Regions from separate parts of the Homo sapiens genome. Here all the other regions are linked to region 5. Evidence: fine-mapped expression QTL. A gene starts in region 5. Each other region holds a variant in brackets. All regions are shown on one strand. Distances are between the middles of the regions.

The links. PIP is the estimated chance that this variant, and not a neighbour inherited with it, causes the effect. A credible set is the group of variants that fine-mapping cannot tell apart.
Region 1: its variant is the best candidate, but not a certain one, in a credible set for the expression of TDRP in whole blood (INTERVAL, PIP 0.59).
Region 2: its variant is the best candidate, but not a certain one, in a credible set for the expression of TDRP in whole blood (TOPMed, PIP 0.61).
Region 3: its variant is the best candidate, but not a certain one, in a credible set for the expression of TDRP in testis (GTEx, PIP 0.52).
Region 4: its variant is the best candidate, but not a certain one, in a credible set for the expression of TDRP in whole blood (INTERVAL, PIP 0.88).
Region 6: its variant is the best candidate, but not a certain one, in a credible set for the expression of TDRP in whole blood (INTERVAL, PIP 0.67).
Region 7: its variant is the best candidate, but not a certain one, in a credible set for the expression of TDRP in whole blood (INTERVAL, PIP 0.60).

The regions. Positions count from the first base shown.
Region 1 is chr8:385,346-389,498 of GRCh38, reverse strand. No RefSeq gene overlaps it. Among named protein-coding and RNA genes, the nearest start is that of FAM87A, 4.2 kb to the right of the region's middle. The variant C/T (reference allele first, on the strand shown) is at 2,236.
Region 2 is chr8:576,067-580,219 of GRCh38, reverse strand. No RefSeq gene overlaps it. Among named protein-coding and RNA genes, the nearest start is that of TDRP, 33 kb to the right of the region's middle. RefSeq lists enhancers at 1,806-2,305, 2,306-2,807. The variant C/G (reference allele first, on the strand shown) is at 2,524.
Region 3 is chr8:205,094-209,246 of GRCh38, reverse strand. LOC124902051 (a long non-coding RNA gene) reads left to right here and starts at 3,967. Exons shown (of 2, transcript XR_007061161.1): 1 at 3,967-4,153. It also overlaps the pseudogene RPL23AP53. RefSeq lists silencers at 1,999-2,221, 2,346-2,425. The variant C/T (reference allele first, on the strand shown) is at 2,479.
Region 4 is chr8:595,730-599,882 of GRCh38, reverse strand. No RefSeq gene overlaps it. Among named protein-coding and RNA genes, the nearest start is that of TDRP, 53 kb to the right of the region's middle. The variant T/C (reference allele first, on the strand shown) is at 1,575.
Region 5 is chr8:542,998-547,150 of GRCh38, reverse strand. TDRP (testis development related protein) reads left to right here and starts at 2,317. Exons shown (of 3, transcript NM_001384899.1): 1 at 2,317-2,501. The coding sequence starts at 2,394. RefSeq lists an enhancer at 838-1,338.
Region 6 is chr8:481,916-486,068 of GRCh38, reverse strand. No RefSeq gene overlaps it. Among named protein-coding and RNA genes, the nearest start is that of TDRP, 61 kb to the left of the region's middle. The variant T/C (reference allele first, on the strand shown) is at 1,900.
Region 7 is chr8:498,467-502,619 of GRCh38, reverse strand. All of the region lies in intron 1 of TDRP (testis development related protein), which reads left to right. Among named protein-coding and RNA genes, the nearest start is that of TDRP, 44 kb to the left of the region's middle. The variant G/A (reference allele first, on the strand shown) is at 1,626.

The DNA.
Region 1 (4,153 bases), 160 kb after region 5:
AAATAGAAGCCTAGGTGTGAACAGCCAAAAACTAGTAGAATGAAACAGACCAGATGGATTTTGGGTTAACCAGCACTGTGAGAACAGGAAGGAGCAGAGTCGTCAATGCAGGTCAGTGCCCGTCACATCAGTAACATGCTCAAAAGACAGGTTTATGTCACGGATAAATGCAAATATACAGGTATGTGAAACTTAAAAAACAGTCATATAAAAATACAAACCAAATACCTCAAACTGGCCGCCCCGGGTGGGAGAGGCTTCAACTGTGTTGTTTTAAGGATCCTTCTACCTCGCCAGAGTCCTTTCCAAAGGACTAGAAACCAACGTGGCAAAATATTTTGTTAATTCTGGTTGTGGGAATATGACTGTTTTATAAAATTATTTGTACATTTTTTTTGTCTTTAAAATGTTTCAAGCCTGGGCGCAGTGGCTCACACCTGTAATCCCAGCACTCTGGGAGGCTGAGGCAGGTGGATCACAAGGTCAGGAGATCGAGACCATCCTGGCTAACATGGTGAAACCCCATCTCTACTAAAAATACAAATAATTAGCCGGACGTGGTGGCACACACCTGTAGCCCCAGCTACTCAAGAGGCAGAGGTGGGAGAATCACCTGAACCCGGAAGGCGGAGGTTGCAGTGAGCCGAGATTGTGCCACTATGCTCCAGCCTGGTGACAGACTGAGACTCCATCTCAAAAAACAAACAAACAAACAAAAATCAAAACTGAAAAGGGCAAAGAAGGAAGAAATCCAAAGAAACAACAAAATCGCTCCAAAGTAAGAGTCCAGTTAAGCCCTTCTAGGGAAAAGAACTGAAGGGTGTAAGGGCCCAGGGGCAGTTTGCGGAGTGAGGGAAGAATGAGCTATGATGGCTCAGGAAATAAATGCAAGAGGAAAACCTTCCAGATGTAAACATGTTAGCTGACAGAGAAGCTCAAACAAGTAGAATAAATTGACGGGAAACAGTCCTTGACGCGTGGAACAGATCTGAGGAAGTCACACAGGATGACACGAAAAACAGCAATGCGACTGCAGTGACCTCAGAGAAGATGGTAGCTGTAGAGATGACGGAAGATAGCATGGGTGCAGTTGGTGCTCTTAAAGAAGACTGAAGAAATAAAAAAAAATGAAAGAGCTGAGAACACAAAGCGTCTTTAAAAAAATGAAACATTTGTACCTGTTTATCTTCTGTTCCAAGAAAAAAAGTGATAAAGATCGATATCGTAAAATACCTTGACTTGTAACCAGACCTCAAGGACAAAGGCATCTTTTGGTAGCTCGAGGAAAAGAAAATCTATAAAGGCAGGAGAGGTATGGGCCCTGAAAAAGCTTTCTCTTCAGAAAACTCCAACTTACTGTTTCAACTTCATAACGTTTACATTCTCTTTATTTATAATGCTCACATTGGTTGAGTCTTAGTTTCTCTGTTGAAGTGAAATTTTTTTTTTTTTGAGACGGAGTTTCGCTCGTTGCCCAGGCTGGAGTGCAATGGCTTGATCTCGGCTCACCGCAACCTCTGCCTCTCGGGTTCAAGCGATTCTCCTGCTTCAGCCTCCCGAGTAGCTGGGACTACAGGCATGGGCCACCATGCCCGGCTAATTTTGTATTTTTAGTAGAGACGGGGTTTCTCCATGTTGGTCAGGCTGGTCTCAAACTCCCGCCCTCAGGGGATCCGCCTGTCTTGGCCTCCCAAAGTGCTGGGATTACAGGTGGGAGCCACTGCGCCCAGCCTGTTGAAGTAAATTTTAACTTTGCCACCCTTTTTCTTGGCGTATTTCTTTGGTTGATTTTTGTCGTTATTGTTTGGATGGATCTTCCTTGAGTTTTTGATGACTTGAGAAAGATTGTCAGTTGCCTTTTTACTTAAAGGCAAATGTGGCTGGCTAGGAGAGGACCACATCCGCTTCCCTCGGGACCCCACAGAAGTGGACGTCTCGGGCTCCAGGGAGGCTGAGTCCGAGGCTGGCCCGGCTCTCCTCCACACCCCTGTGCTTACTCTTTCTCAAAGGACGTTGACACGTTTGCTTTTCTGCTATGTTTCATTTTCAGTGTTCTGCTTCAAATGCAAGCATCTGCGTTTATGTTCAGGCATGCTCTGTATATCTGGGTCTTCCGAGGTCTCCTAACTCCGCTGCGTAGAAGGGCCTCTGCGTGGACGTGTCCCACACCAGAGCTTGTGTAGGGTGGGGCAGACGCAGCAGAAAAGCCTCACGGTTTCCTGTGTTTTCCAAACA[C/T]GGCTTTTCCTCCCAGCCTCCTGAGTTGTTGTTTTGTTCTTTTAATTTACTTCGGGTGACTTTTCGTTTTCTTTTTTTTCAGATCATCTTTGTTCAAGAAGTATCATAATGAAACCAAACATATTTTTTCTTTTCTTTTTTTTTTGTTTTTGAGACGGAGTCTCGCTCTGTCGCCCAGGCTGGAGTGCAGTGGCGCAATCTTGGCTCACTGCAACCTCCGGCTCCCGGGTTCAAGCGATTCCCCTGCCTCAGCCTCCCGAGTAGCCGGGACTACAGGCGCCCGCCACCACGCCTGGCTAATTTTTTTTTGTATTTTTAGTAAAGACGGGATCTCACCGTGTTAGCCAGGATGGTCTTGATCTCCTGACCTGGTGGTCCGCCCGCCTCAGCCTCCCAAAGTGCTGGGATTGCAGGCGTGAGCCACTGTGCCCGGCCCGAACATATTTTTTCCTAGGAATTACAGCTGAACACGTTCTTTCTTCGTCTTTTTTGACTGCTAACAAAGAAAACTGTGGTCAGGTGCAGTCGCTCACTCCTGCAATCCCAGAACTTTGGGAGGTCTAGGTGGGAGGACTGCTTGAGCCCAGAGGTTAGAGACCACCCTTGGCAATGCGACGAGACCCTATCTCTACAAAATTTAAAAAAATAGCCAGGTGTGGTGGTGCATGCTTGTGGTCCCAGTTACTTAGGAGGCTGAGGTGGGAGAATTGCTTGAGCCTGGGAGGTCAAGGGTGCAGTGAGCCATGATCACCAATGAACGCACTCCGGCCTGGGCGACAGAGTGAGATCCCCTCTCTAAATAAATAAATAGGAAGAATAAGAAATAAATTCAAATAATTAGTAGACATATGTGTTTGACCTCCACTTTCTGGCCTCCACATAGACTGCGCTCTGTGTGTATAGTGTCCTCAGGCCAGAGGCTGGGCGGGGACCAAGCCTGGGTGCAGGAAAAGGAGTAAGGCCTGCACTTGTGCCCAAGAACGAAGGGTCTGAGGCACCTGGACCCTGGGCAGAGGTTCAAGGGCAGGTCTGAAGTGAGGGCTGCGGCATGGACGCGGTGGGAGAAAGTCCTCTTTGAGGACCATGGAGGCAGCCTGGGGGCCAGAGAGCGGTCCCCTGCCCCTGGGGGCAGCTCAGGCTGCTTCCCAACCAGGCAGAATCTGCTTCTGAGCAGCTTCACTCTGCCCTACACGCAGTCCTATGGGTCACACCCGGCATCTCGGTGCTGGGGGCATCCCGGGGCTGCTCCGCCTCATCTTTCATTAAGGACAGGCCTGGACCTGGACCGGCCGCCTCACTGATGGCCCCAGCGCCGCTTAGCAGCCAGGGAGAGAGCCAGACTCTATGCAGCCTTGTTGGGACTGCGTCCACTCTGTGTGGAAAGATCAAACGTTTATTTCAGAAACTTTGTTTATATTTGTCATGTATCATAGTGTAATGTATGCTACATTTTATGTGTGTCCCATACCTGTGTGTGTCACATAATGCATGTGCCACAGGTATCCAGGTGTTATGTGTGCATGTCACATATGTGTGTCATATATGTAATACACATGCATGTGTTGTGCACGTGTCACATGTGTGTCGTCGATGTGCAGGTGTCATGTATCTGTGTGGGACCATTCCCTTGTGCCCTCGTTGCTGCGCTGGTCTCCAAGGAAATTTCTCTCACCTCTTTTCTCTTCTCGACGCCATGTCCCGGAGTTGAGGATCTTCCAGCGTGACCCCAAGGAGGCTTTTCGAGCTCTGTGTCCCGGGCTCCAGTGTCTTCGAGGGGACAACACTGGCTTTGTGTTTTCTCATCTATGGCCTTTCTTCTACACAGTATTGCAGTAACGCTCTCCTTTATCTCTTTCCAGCATCTGGTGTGTTTTCCATTAGTCGGCATGAATCCTGCCATATCGCGGGGCGTGGTGTT
Region 2 (4,153 bases), 33 kb before region 5:
GTGGTCATTTGATAGCCACCACAGGAAGCCAGTTCAAGAGACACAAGCACCATGTGTGTGCTCATAACCTCAAAGTTACTGCAAAGGAGAGAAATGCAGATGAAAACAGTGAGACACCACTTTACACCCACGTGTCTTGAAAAGCCCGTAAAGTCAAGCCCTGAATGCTGGTGAGCACAGTGGAGCGGCAGCACATCCGGCATGTGGGCGGCGGTCAGGTGGGAAGCATGGGCAGGTGCCGCGTGGCAAGCGGGTCCCCCGCAGCAGTGAGAGGCAACCTGCAGGCTCCCACAGCACCACGGACAGATACGCCAAGCGGAATGGAGAGAACAGAGTTAGAAGACAGTGGAGTTGAGAGCCCAGTGCTGCTCACAACACACCCAGGCACGAACACTGCAAAGCCACTCATCAAACGCTTCCTGAACCTGCACTTAGCCTGGGATGTGGGTGACCAGGCAGCGAATGGGACACTGAGTTCCCAGCCTGCAGTGTTGACAGGAGCACAGGTGAGCACAGGGCCAAGCACACAGGGACTGAGACATGAGGAGGGAGTACAGGCAGCCCAGGTGAGGCTGCACCAGCAAGTGAGGAGAGGCTTCTGGGGAGCACCACGGAGTGCCCTGAGTGGCCCTCAGACAGGAGGAGTAAACACACAGGACCAGGACCACCATGCCTGACGGGCCTCAGGCAGTGCATCTATGGACGGAGCCTCCCCACAACTGACACGCTATGCCTGAGTGACCCCCGCCATGCTGACTGGCATGTTGAGACCCTCAATGGCACTGCCACTCATGTCACCGGAGGGCACCTCCATCACCTGTGCCCAGCTGGGCTCCGTGCTGGGGGTGGTACTGAGTCCTGGGCCCTCTGGGAGCCGACTCTGGCACTCAAGCACACGTGAGCCGGCATGCTGGTGTCATGAGGAAGCCATCACCTGGCCCCGACCAGACATGGCCCGGTCACTCTGGGGCTTATATCCCTTCAGCGGGGACATAGAGATGCCAAGTCCATGCTCCCAACCAGGGACCAGGTGAGGGACACAGCGTTCGGTGCATGGCACCAAGGTACCTGGCACCGTCATGTCCTTGGTCCCATGTGCTGTGGGGAAGTAGCGTCCACACCATGGAGGGAGGGGTCCCAAGCAGACCCATGTCTTGAGCTGAGTCATTGTCCACACTGCCAGGGCCACAGGGCCCCATGGATCCACTCTCCTTGCTGGAGTCTCTGCTTGGGGCTGTGGCAGATGCTCTTCTGAGGCTCGGTAGCTGCTCCCTGAGAGGAGCGGCTGTGCCAGCAGCATCAGAGCTCAAGGTCGCTTGGGTTAGAGCTGCATTCCACGGGCTGCTGTCCTGTGTCTTTGCCAATCCCATTTCCATTAGTGTCTGCTGCACTCCACAGCCCTGTGCCCATCAGAGGCCTTCGGTCGCCTCACGAAGGACCCTGAGGAAGTGCAGGGCGATGGCAACCACGGAGCCACAGTGGCTGTTTCTAACTGCTCCAGCCACGGGGCGCTTTGAGGCCACACGGCCCACGCTTCTCCAACGGAAGAGACCAAAACTAGGAGGGGAAGGACCATGATTCAAGATACAGTGTGGTCTGGGCAGCGAATGTGTTTGTTAGCAAGGTCCAGTTCGGGAGAGGAACGATTTTTACCTGAGTTTAGTACCCACAGCTGGAAATGTGGGTGTTCATGGCGAGGCAGCCATGTGCTGCCACTTCACCTGCCGAGGGACAGGGGTCTGGAACGATGCCTTGAACAGTCTCCTGTGGACTTCAGCAAACCTGGCGGGGTGTTTGGTGGGAGGGCAGGGGCGGGGGTGCACCCAGCATGGTCTATGCCTGGTCTCCAGCGCTCAGTGTCATAGAGGACATCTGGTGACTTTCCAACTCGTTACGATCAATTTTCCTTCAATAGCCACAACGAAGCTGTTAAGCCCCAGAGGATGATCCTGGCAGCTTGTGGCACTTTGGGCTTTAAAATCAGTCACATATCCCAGTGGCTTTCACAGTAATTTAAAGGACTGTGCCGAGGAAAGTGTTTTGACGACACATGAAACATGTTCCTAGCCACATGTCTCCCGGGTCCTCGGATCTGGGGGCGAGAAAAGCATCTGGGCTTGGGTGGTCCTGACCACGCCCGCCGGCCATCGCACGCTGTGAGTCCCCTGCAAGGTTGCAGACGATTCTGTCCTCATACTACGGGAGACAACTCACCCCTGCTGCATGAGGTGGGTGCCCCTGGCCCACAAACAGCCACAAACAGGCACAGCGATCAATGTGGTCTGTGCCACGTGGTTTTCACAGGAGTCCCCAGGCCAAGCTCCCAGGCGGTGTCAGGACCTGAAGAAGGATCTGAGCCCAGGGATGCCTGGCGCAGGAAGCAGGACCACAGTGTCCCAGAGGACTTGCGGGTTAAGTGATGCGGGCCCTGCCCTCTTCTATGGGCCTCCTTTCACTCAAGTTCAGAAGAAAAGAGTGGCCCAGCAAAGTCCAGGGATTGGCTGGGCTTGGACTGCCCAGGTC[C/G]TGTGTCAGCCTCTGAAGCTGGGAATGGTACCACTCAGGGAGGGCTGAGGAGGGTCAGGGAGGGGCATCAGGTGCTCCCTGGAAGGGGGACAAGTGCAGTTGGCAAATCACCAAGAGCCTAGGGTGGCAGCAGGGCTGCCTGGGAGCTGGCTGGGCTCCTGACCACGGAGCCTCCGACCCTGGCCACAGCCCACAGAGTCGGCCTCACCCAAGACAGAGCCATCGAAGGCCTTCCATGGGGATCTTCTGGCCAGAACGTCCAGGAACAAAGGAAACACAACCTGCCATTTGGGCCCTGGGTCTCTAAGGCTGTGAGCCCAGAGCTCTGCCATGGGAGAATGCTGGCGGCCTGCGGAAATGGGCAGGAGCAAGATGGAGAGAGCCAGGCTGGCCCCTTCGCTGGCGTCCAGCCTACTTTGTTCTTTCCTTCATGGGCTTTTCAGGTTTTCAGGTTGAAATAATTTCCAGTGTATGGAGAAAGTACAGGAATAACAAAGATAATTCCTGTTTGCCAATTATACCCTCAACCCAGATTCACCGACCTCTAAACTGTTGCCCTGTGACTTCTCGTCCCTCCGCCCATGCCTACCTCTCTTCCAGCCCTGCCACCTGCCCTCCTTCCGCTTCCCAGCTCATCCGTTTATCATCTATCATCTATCATCCATCACTGTATCTGGCAGAGACTCACAGGCAGGCCAGGGAGTGAAAATGGGAGACGGTCCTGCAGGATTGCGGGGGGCACACTGTGCTTTCTCTGGTTGATCTTAAATTATAAGTAGGAGAAAAACCAGGGAAGGCGGCTGGGCACAGTGGCTCACTCCTGTAATCTCAGCACTTTGGGAGGCTGAGGTGGGCAGATTGCTTGATGTCAGGAGTTTGAGACCAGTTTGGCCAACATGGTGAAATCTTGTCTTTACTAAAAATCCAAAACTTAGCTGGGCATGGTGGCATGCGCCCATAATCCCAGCTACTCGGGAGACTGAGGCAGGTGAATCGCTTGGACCTGGGAGGTGGAGGTTGCAGTGAGCCGAGATCACACCACTGCACTCCAGCCTGAACAACAGAGTGAAACTCCATCTCAAAAAAAAAAAAAATCCGGGAAGGTGTTGGTTATGAGTCAAGTCCTGGCCTCATGGGGCAGCGACTGCTACGGGGTCACTGTTTGGCCTCCTGGACTCGCTCCTGGAGCAGTGGCCACCCCCTCGCCATGGCCAGCTCCAGTGCAGGGCCTATGCTGGTCCTCGTCAGGGTTGGAGTGGCTCCTTCCCACGTCCGTCCGGGAATAGGAAACCAACCCGGTGGGGCTTAGCATGCGTTGGGGCAAGTCAGGCTCCTCATAAACTGTTGTTAATGGATGAGTGACTGATTCAAAAATAATAAATGCGTGCAGAACCCTAAAAAACTGGCCTTTCAGTGAAGGAGTTGTGTCCTCCTTGTGCTCCTTATAGCACTGGCCATGCCGCCGCCCACTGCTGAGTCTGTATTCATGGGGCCTAACTTGGGTATGGTTTCTTCCAAAATAATATTCATGCTCTCGTCTCAGCCACAAAACAGGCCTCTGAGGTTTCTTTTTCTACAGCCGCACTTTTAGTAACAGTTAGGCCAACACCAGAACATACAATTCTCCCTC
Region 3 (4,153 bases), 340 kb after region 5:
TTCTTAGATGGGATGCTCTGTAAAAACTGACAGATTAAAATGAGAAAAACAGAAAAGTTGAAAAACACGTATACCTTATGGTTACATGGGAGATATTCAGGGAAAAATGAGTAAATCTCCAACAGGTGGCTTTCAATTCAAGCATAAATACTGTCTTCAACTTAAAGAAAGAAGATTTGAGGTGCAGTATTGGGGAGTTAACCAGCAAAAGCACATTAGACAAGGGTAAGGTTCATTATACAGACTTAAGTCCATGCATTCTCCATTGATAAGACTCTTTAGTGATTTAGTTATCCTTCTCTTCTTGGTGTCGAGAGAGGTAGCTTTTAAATGGTGATTTCCTTTATAGATGTAAATTTTCCTTACACAAGTGTAACTTCTCTGTTTTCACAACTTCCTTTGTTAGCATTTTTTTTTTTCAAAATAATTAGCTTGGAATAATTCTTAAGCCAAAGGGACATATTTTGGGGTTGCATATTCTGGTTTCCTACCATTATATTTTGGGGTGGCATATTTTGGTCTTATACACTGTGTTCCACCGGCAATGAAAAGAGTTCTTGTTTTTCCTCCAGCAATTTGTCATTTGTTAAAGAGTTTAGCAGTTCTAAGAGATATAGACCAGCTGTGCTATCTTTTTGTGGTTTTCAGTTCTCTAGTATGTTGAGCATCTTTTTGTAAGTGTACTTGCCATCTGTAGATCTTCTTTGGTGAGGCGTCTGTTCAGATCTGTGTGCATTTTTAATTGGGCTGTTTAACTTATTGTTTAGTTTTAACAATTTTTTATGTATTTTGAATACAAATTCTCAGATCTGTATTTTGCAAATATTTTCTTCAATATGTGGCTTGTCTTTTGGTTCTCTTAACAAGGTCTCTTCCAGAGTATAAACTGTAAATATTAAGAAATCCACATTGTCATTTCTTCTGTGTATATCAACCTTCTGTGTCATTTGTTAAAATTCATCACCAAACGCAAAGGCACATAGCTTTTCTTCTATAGTTTCTTCTAGAAATTGTATAGTTTTGCATTTTTAGTGTAAGGATGATTTTGAGTGGTTATTTGTGTAAGTTGTAAAGTTTTCATCTACATGCATATGATTTCTTATGGTTTCCAATTAATCATTCCCTCACTATTTTTGGGAAAGACACAGGATAGTGGGCTCTGTTAGAGTAGATAGCTAGCTAGACGTGAACAGGAGGGGGAGCTCCTGGAAAAGGGAAAGTCTGTGAAGGCTCACCTGGAGGGACCACCAAAAATGCACATATTAGTAGCATCTCCAGTGCTGGAGTGGATGGGCACTTGTCAATTGTGCTTAGGAGGGAGAAGAGGTACCTACACAGAAACACCCTAGAACTTCTCTTAAGATGCCCCAATCATCATTCACTGCAATAAAAATGTCAGAATATTGCTAGCTACATGCTGATAAGAAGGACAAAGGGGACATTCCTAAGAGAAACCTGGCACCATAAGTACAGATTAGGGCAGAGAAAGACATTCAAAAGAGGCAGGTGCAGTAGATACAAACGTGACTGCTGTCAGCCTGCCTGGGATGGCGGGAAGGAGGTTGGTGCCAGAGTGGATTCAGATTCATCACCCCACGTGTACCTCAATCAACAGGAGGTCCCACAAGCCTAAGTGGGGCAAGTCAGGGACCTAAGGCAGTAGCAGGAAAACCAAGGAAAACAAGCATAGACTTGAGACAGAGGCAGGAATGTGAAGAAGTCCAAAATAAAATTCCCTGCACAGGACTCTTAGGCTGTTTTCATGCACTATGAACCCACTCCTCCCTATTTTCCTACAATAAGCTCTTTACACTGTATTTCTTTTCAATGAAGTTATCTTCCATCTTTGTACTGCCTCTTGGTGAAAATCTTTCTTCCAAGTTAATAACTGGGACATCAGCTCTCCCCAGTAATAGCTCCTTTTCAGTTTTCATTTACAGAACTGATGGGGATTAATAACTGGCGCTCTGACTTTAAGTGGTGCAGGAGGCGGCCAGTAGGGGACGCCAGCCGTCACACCGGGAGCAAGAGGGCCCTGCTTAGTCCCCATCTGCCTGCATGTGGCGTGCAGCCACGACAGTGTCAGCAAGAGGGCCCGGCAGTGTCCCTAGCTGCCAGCAGGGGGCGAACAACGACTACACTGTGAGCAAGAGGGCCCTGCAGTGTCCTTAGCTGCCAGGAGGTGGCGTAGGGGCACCACACCATGAACAAGAGGACCGTGCAGTGCCCTGGTTGCCAGCAGGGGGCGTGCTGCCACTACACTGAGCAAGAGGATCCTGTAGTGCCCCCAGCGGACAGAAGAGGGCGTGCCCCGACTACACTGCAAGCAAGAGGGCCCGGCAGTGTCCCCAGCTGCCAGCAGGGGAGCAGCCGCCACTACACTTGGAGCAAGAGGGCCCGGCAGTGTCCCCAGCTGCCAGCAGGCGGGTGTGCTGCCACTACAATGTGAGCAAGAGGGCCCTGCAATGTCCCTAGCTG[C/T]CAGCAGGCGGCGTGCCGCCAGTATACTGCGAGCAAGAGAGCCCTGCCGTGCCCCGTCGCCAGCAGGAGGCGCTGGACACCACTGTAAGGAAGAGGGCCCTGAAGTTGCCCTAGTTGCCAGCAGGGGGCGCAATGGCACAGCACCGTGGGCAAGCAGGTCCTGTAGTGCCCGGGTACAAGCAGGGGGCACCCGAACCGGGCTTTTCAGATTACTCAGGTTCCACCCGTCTGTGCGCTGCGCCGCCGGGGACGTGTGTCTCTGCGCCTGCACCTCGCCATTCCCGCGCTCCCCGCCCGGCGGCGTGCAACTGTACACCTGCAACACGCCCCGCCATCCTGAGCCCAGCGACGTGCGTCTCTGCGCCTGCGCCTGCGCCGCGCCTCACTCCCGCCCGCCCAGCGACCCCTCCCCTCCGGGGACGCGGAGGCGTGCGTCTATGCCCTGCGCCGCGTCTCCCGAACAGCTCCTGCGCCGGCGCGCCGCGCCTCTCTGCGCCAGCGCCGGCGCGCCGTGCCTTTGCGAGAGCGGAGTTGGGTTCTCCTCAGCACAGACGCGGAGAGCATCGCGAGGGCGGAGCTGCGTTCTCATCTGCACAGATTTCAGTGGTACTGCGAAGGCGGAGCAGAGTTCTCCTCAGGTCAGACCCGGGCGGGCGGGCTGAGGGCACCGCGAGGGCGGAGCTGCGTTCTGCTTAGCACAGACCTGGGGGACACCGTAAAGGTGGAGCAGCATTCTCCTAAGCACAGACGTTGGGGGCACTGCCTGGCTTTGGGACAACTCGGGGCCGCATCGACGGTGAATAAAATCTTTCCCGGTTGCAGCCGTTAATAATCAAGGTCAGAGACCAGTTAGAACGGTTCAGTGTGGAAAACGGGAAACCAAAAGCCCCTCTGAATCCTGCGCACCGAGATTCTCCCAAGTCAAGGCGAGGGGCTGCATTGCAGGGGCCAACTGCAGTGTCGGAACACAAATGCAGCATTCCTAATGCACACATGACACCCAAAATATAATACCCACATTGCTCATGTGGTTTAGGGTTAGGGTGAGGGTTAGGGGTTAGGGGTTAGGGTTGGGGTTGGGGTAGGGTTAGGGTTAAGGGTTAGGGTTAGGGGTTAGGGTTAGGGGTTAGGGTTAGGGTTCGGGTTCGGGTTCGGGCTAGGGGTAGGGTTAGGGTTAGGGGTTAGGGTTTAGGGTTAGGGGTCGGGGTCAGGGTCGGGTTGGGGTTGGGGTTGGGTTTAGGGTTGGGGTTGGGGTTAGGGGTTAGGGGTTAGGGATAGGGGTTAGGGGTTAGGGTTAGGGGTTAGGGTTAGGGTTAGGGTTAGGGTTAGGAGTTAGGGGTTAGGAGTTAGGTTTAGGTTTAGGGGCTAGGGTTAGGTTTGGGTTAGGGTTGGGTTAGGGGCTAGGGTTAGGGTTAGGGTTGGGTTATGGTTAGGGTTGGGTTAGGGTTAGGGTTTGGGTTAGGATTAGGGTTAGGGGTTAGGGTTAGGGTTAGGATTAGGGGTGAGAGTTAGGGTTACGGTACTGTAAATAATTTCACATTATTACTAATAATAAATTATTATTTGTATTACACTGTTACGTAATGTAAACGCTATTAAGACATGTTTTTCTTCAAAGAATGGCCTTGGTTTCTGTGGGCTGTGCCTCGTCATGGAAGGGTAATGCATTCCTGCT
Region 4 (4,153 bases), 53 kb before region 5:
TTTATTTATTCAACAAACATTCCTAAGGTTTACAGTTTGCTGAGAGCATGTTTGGTTTACAGAGACAAGTAAGAGGCTTTCCTGTTCAGGGACTCAGCATCTGAGCAGACACTGGGTGCTCTAAAGTGGCACTGCTGAGTGCATGTCTGGGAAGTGCCTGTGAGTTCAGCGAATCCAGCAGGGCTGTCTCGGTTGCCCTCAGACCGAGAACCTGTGACACTGGTGGGGTGAGGAATGAGCCGTGGCCACTGCCGAAAACTCTGTCGGCTCCTAGATAAGTCCCACCGAAGGGGCATTGGTGACCTCCTTGGTGCCACAGAATCTCCTGCTCCAGCCCTGCTGTAGACCTGTGGCTCTAGGTTACTTGCTTTATTATGACCCGTTGCCCTCAGCTGCCTTCAACCTCTCGGTAGGTGAGTGTCATGTTCTGTTCATTTCTGCAACCCAAGTACCAGGTGTAGCACCTGGTGTGTGGCAGATGCTTTGTAGATGTTTGCTGGACTCCTAAAAGCAGCATTGCGTCGGGTGGATTGTGGAGCCCATGGCACATGTGGATTGCACGGTGCTCTCCACCCTAAAGCAGTGGTCCCCAAGCTTTGTGGCACCAGGGACCAGTTTCATGGAAGACAATTTTTCTATGGACCTGGTGGTGGGGGGATGCTTTCAGGATGATTCAAGCACATTATCTTTATTGTGTACTTTATTTCTATTATTATTACATTATAATATAATTATACAAGTCATCTCATGTAGAATCAGTGGGAACTCTGAGCTTGTTTTTCTGCAACTAGAGGGTCCCATCTGAGGGTGATGAGAGACAGTGACAGATCATCAGGCATTAGGTTCTCATAAGGAGCATGCAACTTAGATCCTTCCTGTGCACAGTTCACAATAGGGTTTGTGCTCCCATGAGAATCTAATGCCACCACTACTCTGAGAGGAGAGAGCTCAACTGGTAACATGGGCAATGGGGAACAGCTGGAAATACAGATGAAGCTTTGTTCACTCACCTGTCACTCACCTGCTGTGTGGCCCAGTTCCTTACAGGCAACAGACCAGTACTGGTCCATGACCCGGGGGTTGGGGATCCCCGATCTGATGTCCCCTGCAGTGCTCTGATCAGTGGAACTGGCTTGGTGACAGAGACAGTTGTACAGAGGCACTTAAAAATATCCAAATAGAGAATAAAGCATTTCTCATCACTTGTGGTTAAAAGTGGCTGTTTCCAGGTGATAGGTTGTTTGGCTTGGAAGAGAGTCTGGTACCCAGCCCAGGCCTTCCCGTGGGACCTTCAGGAGAGAGAAGGCCCCATCCCAGAGTGTGCCTCATTGAACAAGGATTTTGAGGAATGGCAGCTGCAGGAGAAGCTCTAAGAAGTCGCCCTTTTGGAAGGGGAATTTACCTCTGTGAAGGAATCTCTACCTGCCGGGTGTCTCCTCTGGGATCCAGGAAGAAGAGGGAAACTCAGTTACAAGAGACACTTGTTGAGGAGAAAGCTCTATTACAAGCCCACAGCAAGTTGTGGCCTTGGTCACCTGCCTTTCTGGTCACCTCCCCGTTGCCGGCCACCCCCA[T/C]CTTCTTTCTTTATTTTAGTTGAAGATAAGCTAGGGTTCTGGGCCACCTCCTGCAGATTTGTGCGTCTTCCCCTGGAGTTTGCCACCCACGCATGAGGTGTGTGGATTAATAAACTTCTGTTTTTCTCTTGTTCATCTGCCATGGGTTACAGGCGTCCAGTTTTTCTTCTCCTACAGGGAAACAATTTGCTCCACTGGGAAGAGGGGAAAAGGCCACAGAAAGGCAAGTTGACCAGAAGACCCCTCACAGCGTCCCCTTATCATCACCTCCTCTGCCTCTAGGGAAGTCTTGGGGGCTGGTGGTGCATTGGCTAGGTGCAGAGGCAATGGCTACAGGCTGGGACCACTGTGGAAGCCCCCAGACTGAAGCCCCACTGCCTGATCTCATCATCCTTTGCATCACTCTGTGACCTATGACTTTGACCCTCTCTCCTAACTGGCCTGGCCTGGTGGGAGCAGGAGCCACTTATTTAGGTCTAAGGACTGCAAGCTCTAGGGCTTTGCAGATGCAGGCAGATTTGGGGCCTGAGCAGGGGCAGGAATGAACTTGGAACATAACCCTCAGAAGTTCTGAGGTAGTCCTGGCCATGGGGTCCATGCAAGGACTACATCCCGCAGCTTTCCGCTTTCCAGTCTGCCGTCAGTGCCCACACATGGTTCAGGAGGTGGAAATCATGAGATGACACCGTGTCTGTGCACGCGGCTCTGGTTCTGCTCAAGGCTTATAGTATTGCTCATGGAAACAGAGGATGCTGGAAACGAGGGTCTGGTTTTGCAGCAGAACCACAGCATCTGGGGGCGAGTGTGGGGGCTCAGGCCGTGTCCAACCAGCTGGCCCCTGTAGCAGGCCCTCCCTAGCCTCTAGCCTCTGGGGACTTTAGGACCTAATGGAAACTTTTCTTGACACAGCTCTAAGTTGGTCAGCTCAGTCTCTTTCTGCAATTCCCAAATTGCAGTCTGTGTGTAGTGAAAACTACCAGCAAAATAAAAAGCAACGTGTCCTCTACTCATAATTATTTTTTAAAATAAAATTTCAGAAACTGATTATTGAAATTTTATAAGCTGCATCTGCTTCAAATTCCAGTTAAGCCCAGTAGCCCTGCTCTGTTTTACACATCAACACCCAAATTATTTGTTGCTATTTAAAACGTAACTTTCTACATATTTTTAAGGCTTTACTTGTAAATTTTATTGCACTTGTATATGTAAAATTCTTAAACGGCTAAGAGCAGGTACTACACTTGGTCTTGGCCAAAAGGGCAAGAATCACTGCTTGCAAAGCTTTTAAGAGCCAGCATTACTGCCTGGTTTGTGGTGAAAGCGGCTTCCTTATTCCACCCTCGGTCCTTGCGGCTGTCACTCTGTCTCTTGGTGTTTGCCTCCTGTGAAAGAACATGCTTGTGTCTCATGTTTATTTTGGGGCTCATCTATTGATTTCCTTCAATGATGGGGGAGGAGCTAACCTTTCTGCTAAGCACATGCATGCACCCACAATCTCTGCACCCCCTTCTCCTCCAATGCGATAGCCACACTCTGTGGCGACCTCAGTATTCCAGGTTGCCATCCTGTGATCACGCAGAGCTTATTCTCAGCTGAGCTGTGTAATTGTAAAATGATTAAGTTTCCCTTCATGCACTCCGTTTCCTCTGGGGTTAGAAGCTGTTGCATTTTAGTTGTTATTTCCTTAGACTTCTAGGAAGGGACCACTGTTCTAGCCACATACTTCCTAACGGAAATAAGAAAGACCCTTGGACGATCAGGCACATCGAAGGTCCAGCCATGGCGTCCCTGAGGCCCCCACTGCCTCAGCTCCTAAGGCTCTGGCCACATTTCCCTGTGTCTCCCTGCTCCTCACCTTCAGGGCTGCCTGAGTTACCCTGTGTGGAAGGAACCCTTTGAGACCTGCAATGTCTGGAGACGTCGCCATTCTCTCCTTGACCTTTTCTTTCTGGGACCAGGATTCTAGGCTGCAAGAAATGTCTCTCAGAACTGAGAAGGCTTCACTTCCCGCCCTGCAGACTCCAGCGTTCTGTAGGGAGGTCTCAGCCATTCCAGTTCTGCCACGAGAGTGCTGGGGCCTGTGGCTCTGGCCCCTGGGCTGCTGGTGAGCTCTGCCTGAAGTGTCTCAGCAATGAGGATGTGGATGACACAGGTGTTTTTACTCTGTTCTTTCATGCATGCGCTACTCTCTCAATCTGGGCTCCTGTCTGCAGTTCTGGACCACTTGTTTGAGTTATTTCTTTGCTGGTCTCTCCTGTCTGACCTCTCTGGTCTCTCTTCTCATTAAGTGGGTATTGGAATTTCTGGGTTGATTCTCTATTTCTTTTTTCATTCCTCCCTAATTCTTCATCTGTGCATCTTTTTATTCTGTTTCTGTGAGATGTAAATGAGTCTAATATTCAACATTTCTATTAAATTATTTATGTCTATTCTACTTTTAATTGAAAGATTCTGTGTGTAGTTTTGCGGTGTCTGCTCTTATTTCACGGCCACCCTGTTTCTCTGCGAATATCATAGGTTTGTCTGCGTCCTACTCCCTCCATCCACTCGGCTTCCTCCAGGTTTCTCTCTGGGTCTGT
Region 5 (4,153 bases):
CATTTGTGCCAGGCCTTTAGGTTGTAGATATCCTGACTAGCTGTGCTCTTCTTCAGAAGAAAGCTAAATGTCTAAAATATTCAGTAAGTTAGCTTTTTTATTTAGCAAGGCTCACCTTCTTCCAGATTGTCATAGATTTGCAGGGGATTACAGTTTAATGACAATTCATGGAGTGGATGTTGCTAGACTGAGAGGAAGCCAGCTGTCTGGGCATAAGCCCTGTGTTCCTTCGCATTAGCCAGGGGGATTTGTGTTATTTGTCCAAGTGTTCTGAGTTGGTTTTCTGTGTTTTATTTGTAGCGTCTTTATATGGGCTGTGTTTGGATCCTGACTTTGTTTTGCAACCTCTGTTTGATAGTTTTTGACTTTCATCAGTTTGTGCTTGCAATGTGCTTATTTTGACAGCACCCCGGAGCCACACCATGCCATCTTGCATTTGCAATTTTCTAAGCCCCCTAGCCCAGGAGGCCAGGCCTATTAGGCCTTGTTTGAAAAGGAGCATATATACATTTTTAACATTCTTATTATTTGCGTGAAGATGAACTCTCAAATTTAGTTTGTACTGGGTGGAGTGGTCCTTAGTAGGCGCCAGTGTTTAATTCTATTTCGTGATGTTTGCGGCCGGTAGGTTTAGCGGTCACCGGGGGAGGGAGGCATGTGGGAGGGGTGCTGCCCTCCTCTCTGGGTGACGGTATAGTTAGGTTAGTATCGTTAGGTTATTATCTGGCTCTTCCCACTCGGCTGGGGGCTCCTGCCAGGCCCAGCCCCCGCCCTCCCTGTGCGTCCCGCGCCAGGGCCCCAGGTCCCCCCAGGCCTTGGGCACGGGCGCCACCCCCTCGGTTCTCCGGGATCCTGGCCGGCATCTCCCAAAGGCAGTTCAGAGCCCCTTTCATCTTAAAAGCTTTGCTGCTCATCACTTCTGGGAAACTCAAAATGTACATTTCATTTTTTTAAGAGTCGTAAAGTTACGAAGCTTGCAGTTTTCAAGGGAGCTCATAGTTCTGGATCCTCCTTCAAAATGCGCTTTTACATGACTGAACACATGAATACATATTTGGTGTAAGAAGCGATACGAAGCGCGTCGCGGGAAAAATTAACCTGCTGGGCGGGAGCGGACGCCTAGAATCCCCCGTTCCCGCGGCTCCGTCCCGGGATCGGGGGTCGCCTCGCCGGCTCCTTTCGGCCTGGGAACCAGGCGGTTCTGCCCTCAGGAATCTGTGGGCGCCTCTCCCGCTCCTGATTCTGACAAAGCCATAGCCACGCGGGAAAACGTTCTCCGGGCCCTGAGCCCCAACCTGGGCGCCGCGGGGGTCCCAAGGGTTCTGCGCGGCCCGGCACCACGGCCCCATCCCCGCCCCCCACCGCCGTCAGTCCGGGCCGAGCCCGCGGCGCCCCAGGCCCCAGCGGCCCCACCGCCCACCAGGGCTGGGCGAGGCTTCCTCCCGGCGCCCCCACTATCCCGCGACCTCGGGCGCCGGAGGGGATGAGTCCCGGATGCCCGGCGCCCAGGCCCCGAGGGATGCCCTGAAGCGCTGGGGTACAGGCGCCGCTCCGCGGACTGTGCCCCCTCCACCTTCCCCTCAGCCTTGCCGCGGCCTGAGCGCCAGCGGCGCGCATGCGCACTGCGCTCCCGGCCGTTGCCTTGGTGACCCGAGCGGACGTGGCCACGCCCTCCGGCCAGGGTCTGGGAAAGGGTGGGGGGAGGGGGCAGTCCGGGAGTAAGTGGGGGTCGGCGGGGGAGAAGGAGAGAACCGGGAGAGGGGAATTTGCGGGGGCCGGGTGGGGGCTCGGGGGTAGAGGAGGACCCAGGGAACCGGGGATAGGGCAGGGCTAGGGGCTCGGTGGGGGCTCAGGATGGGGGCGTTTCCGGGTGAGGAAGCAGCTAGGGGCGGGTAGGTGGGGGTCAAGGTGGGGGGACCAGGTGACGGGGTAGCCTGGGGTGAGGACGTCGTTCAGTAGAACAGTGAAGGGCGAGGGTCTCGCCGGGGCGGTGGCGGGGACCACACTGGGAGGAGGGGGCCGGGGTTGACCTTTCTGTGGGGGATGGGATTCGGAGCCCCGTCGAATTTGGGGGTGGGTCTGGTCCTGGGGAAGGTTTGGGGGCGGGTCTGGTCTTCGGAAGGGTTTGGGGCGGGCCTGGTCCTGAGGAGGGCTTGGAGCGGGCCTGGTTCTGGGGATGGTTTGGGGGCGGGCCGGGTCCTGGGGAGGGTTTGGGGCGGGCCTGGTGGGGAGGGGGCGGGCCTAGTTCTGGGGGTGCCCCGCCCCCGCCTAGCCCCGCCCGGCCCACTGGGCCCGCGTCCCGCAGGAGCCGCAGGCAGAGCGTCCGGCGGCCGGGAGGGACGCGGAGCCACAGCCCGACGCACGGACGGAGGGACGCCGGAGCCCGCCTGACCATGTGGAAGCTGGGCCGGGGCCGAGTGCTGCTGGACGAGCCCCCCGAGGAGGAGGACGGCCTGCGTGGGGGGCCGCCACCGGCCGCCGCCGCCGCCGCCCAGGCGCAGGTGAGGGGGTGCGCAGGTGGGGAGTGCTAGTAGGCCGGGGGCGCGCAGGTGGAGGGCGAGGGTGGGCGGCGCGCAGGTGGAGGTGCGGGTAGTTGGGGGCACAGTTTGGGCGGGCAGGTGAGGTTGGGGCCGCGTAGCTCCGGGGCGCGGCCCGCTAGGTGCCCGAGTGCGGAGTCGGAGAACTTGACCCGAGGCTCGTCCTGGGCTGAGTTGCCGCTGTGGTCCGCGTGGACCCACTCCCCGCTTAACTGGCCAGGGCTGCCGGCGTTCTCGCCGCTTGCAGGGGACCCAGTGCCCCCTGCACGTGTTACTCGGGGCGCAGTCCCAGGAGAGCGGGGACGCAGTGCGCGCACCCCGCGGCGCGGGCGTCGTGGGCCCGGGACGCAGAGGTCCACGCCGGGTGCTCGCGTCCCGGGTGGAGCTGGCGGAGAAGGCCTGAATCATCGCGCATCCGGACGGCCTCCTCGCGGACACTAAGCAGCTTTGGACGACCGTAGCTCAATGTTAAGTGGGCTAAATGTTTGTTTGCATAACAAGTATTTTCTTAAATTCTTGATTTTTCTGAAGGAAGCCGGCAGAAGTCCTTTGTACTGAAAACTGAAAGGCCTTTACCTGACGAGTGTAGAGATATGTTTGGTATGTCTAGAATTTTGTAATTGAAAGGGCTCCCAGGTGGGCCCTGTGTGCCTTAGACGTGCCCTCCCCCACCCCCTCCCCCCCCCTCCCTTTTTCCATTGCAGTGCTCTTTTTCATGTACAATGAAATTTAGGTCAGAAATCCAGCATTCTGGATCATAAAATATCTCTTTCTGTTAAACGTGTGGCAACTTCCTCCTGATGCTGTTAAGGCCGAATGGAATATAAGGATTTGTACCTGTCTTCCGAGGACTTGGAAATAGTTTCTGAGCAGAAGAGTTTCTCTTAGGGTCTGGAGTTGTTTCTTCTTGATAGAGATTTTCTATGAACGTTAAATTCCATTCCTAACTCATGGAAAATGGAGCCGATTATGTTAAGCGCTTAAATATGGTTACTATCTGAACTTGTCTGAGAAATTTCTTTTAGGTAGCGTTAGTGCTTACGTGCCTTTTTTTTTTTTAATTTCAGAATGTTATAGTTACTCTAAACAGCTCTCTTCTTGAATGTAATGATGAGAATTTATATGTGGCTACAGAGTTAACTGCAGAAGCTACAAATAACTAATATTGGTCAAAGATGAGCCATATTATTGTTTCTGGATAGAGCCTTGAGAATTTTAAACTGAGTCTTCCTATGTTCTCCCATTTTTCCTAATGAATCCTGAAACCCACTTTTTTTTCTTAAGTTTTTATTTTTTATTTTGAGACAGGGTCTTGCCCCGTTTACTAGGCTGGAGTGCAGTGGCGCAATCTCGGCTCACTACGGCCTCAACCTGCCTGGGCTCAAGCTATTCTCCTCTCTCAGCCTCTGTAGTAGCTGGGACTACAAGTGCGCACCACCTCACCTGGCTAATTTTAAAAAACCGTTTTTGTGGAAATGGGGTCTTGCTATGTTGTCCAGGCAGATCTGAAACTCCTGGGCTCACGTGATCCGCCCGCCTCAGCCTCCCAAGGTACTAGGATCACAGGCGTGAGTCACCACGCCTGGCCTTAAGTTCTTACTTTGAAAAATTTCTAA
Region 6 (4,153 bases), 61 kb after region 5:
TGGCGGCCTCTGATAAGGCAAAGCCACCTTTTGCTGCTGTGTTGCCGCAAGAACACGGGTCATCTGGTGATGCGGACACGTTCCCGTTGGAGCTGGAGCGTGTCCCCCTCGCTGCTGTGAAGAAGCACAGTAAGATATGTGATAAATGATAAATTTTAATAGTTATGTTTAAATGAAAGAATGGGGTGAATTTTACCTCTGTTTTTAATGTTTCTGGAGTATGTCAAAAAATACTAGAAAGGAGTACTGACTATTCACAAACACAGTGCTTGTATACCTGTGGTGCTTCCTAGACATGCCATTGCTGTCTCAGCAGCTCCACCTCGGATCGCGGGGAAGCGAGGCAGCAACTGGAAGCCTGGGGTCCTGCTGGTGCCATCTCTGAAGCGCCTCTGCCTCTCACGCGGGTGTCCTGCTCTCTGGCTGCGTGCGTGTATCCTGTTCCTCCTCAAGGTGCAGCCTCCATGTGGGCATCGTGGGAAGTCAATGTTTACCAAACTGTGAAGCGGGCACAGCCTGGGGTGGAGTCAGTTCAGTGCAGTTCAGGCACAGAGGGGACCTCTTGCCAGGCAGGAATGTTGCAGTGTCTGGGGCTTTCTACTCCACTGGGTTGAAAGCCTTAGGAGGTGTCAAGTCCGTCTCTTTCCTTCTCAACTTGAGCACGGTGAGCTGAAAATGCACCCCTTGCTGACCGCCCCACTCCCTCCGCAGGTGAAAGCCATTGGCCTCCCAGAATGTCAAGCTATTAAATTTAGGCAATGACTTGGCACAGTGAAAGGCTGGGGTGGGAGGGAGGTAAACAAAACAAAATCAGTTCACTTCCCCTGAGGAAGTAAACTATTTTTGATTGAATTAATATATTTCAGTTCCCTGAGGTGGAAAACTCCAGCTCATACAGCCAGCTGTGTTTGAGGATTCAACTAAACTTTCTGCCAAAAAACCTCAGCTCAGAAATAAAACTAGAAGTGAGCACAATGAAACTTTAAGTACTTCTTATTTAGGTTATGTACTTGTTATTAGATTATTAAAAAATGACCTAATTTTTAAACAGTGACAAGTGGCAGGGCTGCCTGACCACGTTGCCTCCCTGTTCCTGTGGGCTTTGGAGGAGGCTCGGCTGCCTCTGCTGCTGCAGTCGGCTGGGAGGGGCTCAGGCGACATCTGTCTGAGCTCCTGTTGCTGTTTAGGGAGGGGGCAGGTGGCAGGGCTTAGAGCAGCCACACCAGCCTGCGGCCTGGCCTTACTGGGCCCCAGCAGGCGTTGACGCCTACCTGCGCCACACCCGTCAGACACCTGTGCTTTGCCCTTGCCTCCCTCTGGGGCCTTAGCACAGTCCTGCAATGCCGGCATTGCTGTGCCCATTTTATAGATGCTGAGTGAGGTCCAAGAGTCCCGCTCTTAAACGCCTGGAATGAGTTTGTTCTGTGGCAGGTGGAATGACACCAGATGATGGGAGACTGCAGACTGAGGTGCGGAGGAAGGGCAACCTTCATTCAGTTGTGGGTATTTATGCAGCATTTCCCAGGAATGAGGCAAAGTATCACAGGTGCAGGGAAGCTCACACAGACCACCAGGGACAGCCTGCTGAGGACAGACAGGCTCGAGGCCAAGGCCACGTCCCCAGAGTCTCGGCAGGAAAGGGGCATGCCTGCACCAGGTCTGAGCCACTGTGACAGCGTTGGGGCTCCCTTGTGGAAGGCGCCACCTGCCACCATGACCTCTGGCATTTCCCTAGGGAGGTCCCCCTCTGGTGTGGGGTGTGGGGTCAGATGCTGAAGTTGGGATCTTTGCACCAAGGCAGACAGCCGTTTGGCCTTGAGCTTGTTTTGAAGTTGCTGGGCCCTGATGGGGTTTGGTGCTGTGTGGTTCTGGGGAGTCTTTGTCAAGTCTGGGCGTCCC[T/C]TGGCTGGATGGGTGGCATCCCTCATAAGGTGTGTGGTGGCCCGAGTTCCGTCTCAGGAGGCCGTGGCCTGTGCCAGCAACACGAGTGCAGCCTGGGCGACTCCCTACTCTGGGCCTCTGGTGATCTGAGCTGTGCTCTGCGGGATCCACTTGTGGGCCCGGCCTCAGCCTGGCCTGACTGCAGCATGTTCTATTAAGTATTCAAAACACGATCAGCTTGAAGGCACATCCTCCCCAACCCTTGCCTGCTGCTGAGGTCGGGGTCTGGGGTGCTCTTGGTGGAGGAGATGCAGCTTTCAGGCCTGCATCCCAGCTCTGCATGCAGCCCCTGCCACCTCCCACCCAAGTGCCAGGAAGCCACTTTGTCTCCCTCCATTCTACATGAAAGCACCTTCCCAAAGCTTCTCTAGTGTTTCAGGGTCTTGGCCCAGGGTGGTGCTTCCACTGGGACATGGTCCCCAGGGTTTGTAGGGCCCAGGTTTGGGTCCCGTGCCGGCTGCCACCCAGCCCCAGATACCACGGCTGCTTCCTGTGCAGCCACCGCATGACAGCCCCCCTCACAAGATGCCCACAGGAGATGCCCGTGTGACAGCTGCACTGGCTCCTTCCATGGCTGAGCACTGGGCCCAGGGAGCAGAAGGCACTGGAAGCAGAAGGGAGGAGCCCTGCCCTGGCAGCATGTGCCAGTGGGGTTCTGAAATGCCCTCCCGTTTACATGAGAAAAGTCGGGGGGTGTGGTTGGTGTGGGCCTTCTGAACTTCAGTTCTTGGATTTCTCATTTTTGTAACGCGAGTGCTATCTATGCTATAACATTCTTAATACTCTTTAAAATTGATTCACTTTAAAGAATTGCTTGCTGAGGAAGCTGGTGGGTGAGGACAGGGTTGCGGATGGTGGGAGGCCCTGTGAGGAGGGGCGAGGGGCTTCAGGGCTGGAACTGCCGAACAGCCAGTGGAGGGGCCAAACCTGGGGAGCGTGGGGCAACTCGTGTGGGAGGTGTTCTCGGGCAGGCTCACCTGCAGCGTCTTTAAGCATGCGCTTTCATAGAATCCTCTTGCAGATCCTGGGGCACCTGTGCCGCCAAGAGTCCTGCTCACCTGGCTGGCTCCTTGGTGCCCTGACCCATGGCTCTTCTCACCTGTGTGCCACCCCCAAGAGGCTTCTTCTTTCTTCTGAAACAGGCCCTCATCTGTGAACCACTGTCCATTGTGGTCCCCTCCTGTTCATTTTGTTCATTTTCTGCTCTTCTCTTGCTTGTTTCTCCCTTGACGCCATAAAGTCAATTTCTCGGTCTAAATCCTGGTTCTCAACCCTAGAGAGGATCAATGTCCCCATATCAACAGGAAGTAGAGCCAGTGACATTTCTACCTCACCCAGAGTGAGGACCAGGTTGGTTGTGTGAGGTGAAGCAGAGCTCTTGCGGGGGGCTAGTGTCATACCCCTAACCCCGCCTTCCATTAAGGCCAAAGCTGGGCCCTGCGGGGCTTTGTCCCATGGCCAGACGTTTTCATCAGAATTAGGTGCTGTTTTCTTCATTGTGTGGAGAGTGGATTTGATGGAAGAAGGTCATGTAATTGGGGGAGGGGGGAGCCAAGTCTCTAGACAGAGTAGGAAAACTAGTGGGGTATTGAGTTTTGGAGACATTTCTAGGGCAACAAGGTATCTTTAGGAATTTGGTCCATGGCAGCCTTGGGCAGATGTTTAAAAAAACAGACTTGTACCTGGAATTCGCTTTTAAAGTCTGCCAGCTGCCCAGGGTCATAGGTTCATTTGCCCAGGCTCCTGCATATTCTAATTTTATCCACTGAGGCCCAGGACACATGGAGTCTCTGCTCAGTCTCTATCCTTAGAAGGAAGCTTCAAGCCGGGCTGTCAGAGCCGACGGTAAACACATGATGAATGTCCCCGCCGCCCTGAACCGTCTTCCTGAGATTCTGTGTGCCTGCCCACTCTTCCTTGCAGAGTCTGAAAGTGCATTGCAGCGTGTTCCTCCGGCTCCCAGAATCGGACATCCGTTTCATCTTGGAGGAGCACATCCTGAATAAAGGTTATTCTAATTTTAACAGCAGCAAATGCTAAGCTCAATGGTGAACTAGAAGGGCCATCTCCCAGCAAAGCCTAATGCATCTTAGGAATGTGTGACCATTTATTTTTTGTTTTTATTAAAAAACCTTTTTAGAGACAGGGTCCTGCTCTGTCACCCAGACTGGAATGCAGTGGCATGATCAGGGCTCAGTACAACCTCCAACTCCTG
Region 7 (4,153 bases), 45 kb after region 5:
TTCCATGTTGACACGTGCTGAGGTAGGCGTAGGTCCCACTGCATGGCTCTGGGTTCCATGTTTGTGTGTGCTGAGGTATGCCTAGGTCACCCGAGCTAGTTTTTTGAGTCAGACTGTGTTCAGGCAGGCTGGGGGTCAGATCAGCAGCCCCTCTGGTGGGAGCCTGGTCTCGCTATGGCCGCCTAGCCCCACCACACCCTGAAGGGTCGTTGGCCTGGCACCCTGCAATTTGGTGAACACGGCTGCGGGCCTTCCTGTGGCCTGATGGGTCTCATCTGATGACTGTGGGATTTGGTCTCACAGTTTGACTTGGATGTCAGGACTGGGTTCATCAACCAATGTTTTCCAGAATGGCCAGTTTCTCAATAGCTTCAGTGTGTTTAAAGATAAGTTCACTGTGAGTTCCCAAATTTAGAAGGGATGAAAGAAGACTAAGCTGTTCTGTGCCTTTTTGTTGTACGTAATTGAAACCTTAGCCTGTTGGGGGCACTGTGTTTTGTGTTCCCAGGATCACAGCATTTTCACAGTATTCAGGAAGGTGGGAGGTGGTAGCCAATGGCGATGCCAAGAAGAGGCCTGGGGCCTGTGCTTTCACTCTTCCCAGAGTCCTCCCTCACCACGTCACCACCCCCAGAACAGCTTTAAGACACTGAATGCCAGCGCTAAGCCTTTGTCCAGAACTGTTCTGGGGGTGGGCTTTGGAGAGGGTGGGTCAGGGTCATGCACAGCTCCTTCCATGTTCCCCTCATCTTCACAAAGAGCTGTATTTCTGGGCCCATGACTGCAGGGACGCCAGTGCCCTGTGGTTGATAACGGCAAACCGTCTGTACTGAGTCCCATGCTGGCCCTGCACATGGTCACCCTGCTGTGATGCAGTGTTCCTGATGAGAAATTGGGATACCTGGCTTAAGAAAGGTTTCTAATTTTTCCTGACCTATGACTTTAAATACCTTTAAAACGTATAGCAGGAAAGGTCCGGGCGCGGTGTCTCACGCCTGTAATCCCAGCACTTTGGGAGGCTGAGGCGGTTGGATCGCTTGAGGGCAGGAGTTCGAGACCAGCCGGGCCAACATAGTGAAACCCTATCTTTACTAAAAATACAAAAATTAGCTGGGTGTGGTGGCCATCGCCTGTAATTCCAGCTACTCAGGAGGCTGAGGCAGGAGAATTGCTTGAACCTGGGAGGTGGATGTTGCAGTGAGCCAAGATCACACCACTGCACTCCAGCCTGGGCAACAGAGAAAGACTCCATCTCAAAAAGACAAAACAAAAGAAGTATACCAGGAAATTTGCTTTATAATGAAATACTAAAATTACATGGACTCTGGACTGAACTGGTAGGTGCAGGTTATGTGGCATGCAGTGAGCTGACCCGAGCATTACGCTCATGTTTTTTTTGTTTGTTTGTTTTTTTGAGATGGAGTCTCACTCTGTCGCCCAGGCTGGAGTGCAGTGGCGCGATCTCAGCTCACTGCAAGCTCCACCTCCTCGGGTTCACGCCATTCTCCTGCCTCAGCCTCCAGAGTAGCTGGGACTACAGGCGCCCGCCATCACGCCCGGCTAATTTTTGTATTTTTAGTAGAGACGGGGTTTCACCGTGTTAGCCAGGATGGTCTCGATCTCCT[G/A]ACCTTGTGATCCACCCACCTTGGCCTCCCAGAGTGCTGGGATTACAGGTGTGAGACACCGCGCCCGGCCTGCTCATGTTCTTGTTAACCCTCTTGCTGGATTCTGTCCTTCACAGGTACTGTGGTGTAACACTTCCTGGTCTTGCCCACATTACTGGGTTGGTCTTAGGTGTCACTGTTCAGCCTTGCTGTGCTATTTCCTGCCCTGGTTGTCAGGACCCAGAGTTGCAGGGAGCAGCCTGGAGGCTTTCTCCCAGGGCCGGAGTCCGATACACCTGCCCTTCCTGTGGCAAAAGGAGAAATTTCCATCTGCTTTATTGGGATAATTCAGAACTTAATGCTTGAATTTTACATTTAATGAAAAATAGGAGAAAACGCAAATGACACTGTATCTTGGACATTTTGTTTAAGATTTCAAGATTACAAATTGTGAGATTAAGTATGAAGGATGGCACTTCTGAGAGTGTCACTTGGTTAGATGAGGATCTCTTTTCTGATTACAGGAGGTGAAGATTGGCAGGTTCAGTTCTTCTAAACAAGGCCTTCAGGGTTGCCACACCCAAGCTCTGTGCTCATGGACAGGATCTGGACGTGCGCACTGGTGGGGCCTGCCGATGAGGTTTATTGCTCCCTGTGTATTCAATGCCAGCCAGAGGTCCTGGCCTCTCTGCACATTTTTGATAAGACACTGCCGTTTAACCTAACAGGAATAATTTTGGTAAATTATGGATATTAATTTTCTTTACAATATTGCATAGATTTTCTTCATGAAACATGAAGCACTTTTTTACAACTAAGGTATAGCTAAAACAGGAAAAATAATTTTTCGTTGTTTTGTGCAGGAACTTACTTTCTCATTTCTGTGGCCTAACTTCTTGGTCATTACCAGCGTTTTACGGCACATCTCATCTGTCTTCATTGTTTTGGATGTCACTTTCTCTCTGAATTGAATCCTAGTTTTAAGAATGTTTTACCATCATTCTTCTTGGTCCTCAAGAGGTGTTTAGGTTTTTTCTGCCTTCCCATAGAACACTCTACAGGGCTTTTCCCGTGGAAGAGGAGAACTTTCTTCATGCCCCATACCATGAGCAGCACTTAGGCTGTCGCCACCTAAGATTTTGTCCACCTCAGGACAATGTCCATGTCCTTCCTGGGCCCTTCAGGAACTCCACCTCAAGGGCCAGCCTTGCTGGCTACAGGAGCAGAGTGCTCAGGTGAGGACTTTCCCTCCTGTCCTTCCCGGGGGATGCTCAGAGGGAAATGTGGGAGACTTCAGGTGAAGACCGAGATATCTGGTTTTGATGGATTCTTTCTGCCCGCATAGTGGATGAGTGGAGGAGTGGCCTCACAGCACTCCTCACGCTCACACTTCGATCATGTCTGTTTGTGCACCTTCTAGGACTCCAACCTCTTCTAATTGCTCACCTGGCAGTAGAGAGGGATTCCCTTACTTGTTCTCCATGGAGGTGCATGTTAGAGCAGGGGCTCAGGAAGCTGGTGGTGGGATGGAGTCCCAGCTCCAGGGTCATCTGATGGGATGTGCAGCAGCCACCCAGGTGCTACAGGGACAGTGGTGTGGTTAGTGGAGACCACACAACTGGAAATGTGGGTTCTACTGCCAGCCCAGCGTGGTGTTCAAAGGGTGGAATTCCTGGAAAATTGTATGCAGAAATGGGAGATTAAGGCATTCTTGTAAGGAAGTAGGCCAGGCCACCAGCCTGGGTAACAGAGAGACCCTGCCTCCAAAAACAAAACAAAACAAAACAAAAACGTTGTTTGAAGTTCATAAACTAGAGACTATTTTTTTGGCATCTTATTCCTAATAATTTCAATGGAAACACTAGGTAATAATTTATATTTCAATAATTCTCATTTCCTGTTGATTTTCCTTATGATACCAGAAATGGAATCTTAGGGGAATCACCTTGTATTAGTCCATTTACACACTGCTGTAAAGAACTACCTGAGACTGGGTAATTTATAAAGAAAAGAGGTTTAATTGACTCACAGTTCCATGTGGCTGGGGAGGCCTCAGGAAACTTACGTAAGGAGGTGAAGGGAAAACAAGGCACATCTTACTTGGTGGCAGGAGAGAGAGAGAGAGAGAGAACAGGGAGGTGCCACACACTTTTAAATGATCAGATCTTGTGAGAACTCACTATCACAAGAACAGCAAGGGGGAAATCCGCTTCCATGATCCAGTCACGTCCCACCAGGTCCCTTCCCTGACATGTGGGGATTATAGTTTGACACAAAATTTGGGTGGGGACACAGAGACAAACCACATCATTCTGCTCCTGGCCCCTCCCAAATGTAATGTTCTTCTTACATTTCAAAACCAGTCATGCCTTCCCAACAATCCCCCAAAATCTTAACTCATTCCAGCATTAACTCAAAAGTCAAATCCAAAGTCTCATCTGAGACAAGGTAAGTAGTCTCATCTAAGACAAGGTAAGTCCCTTCTGCCTATAAGCCTGTAAAATCAAAAACAAGTTAGTTACTTTAAAGACACAATGGAGGTGCAGGCG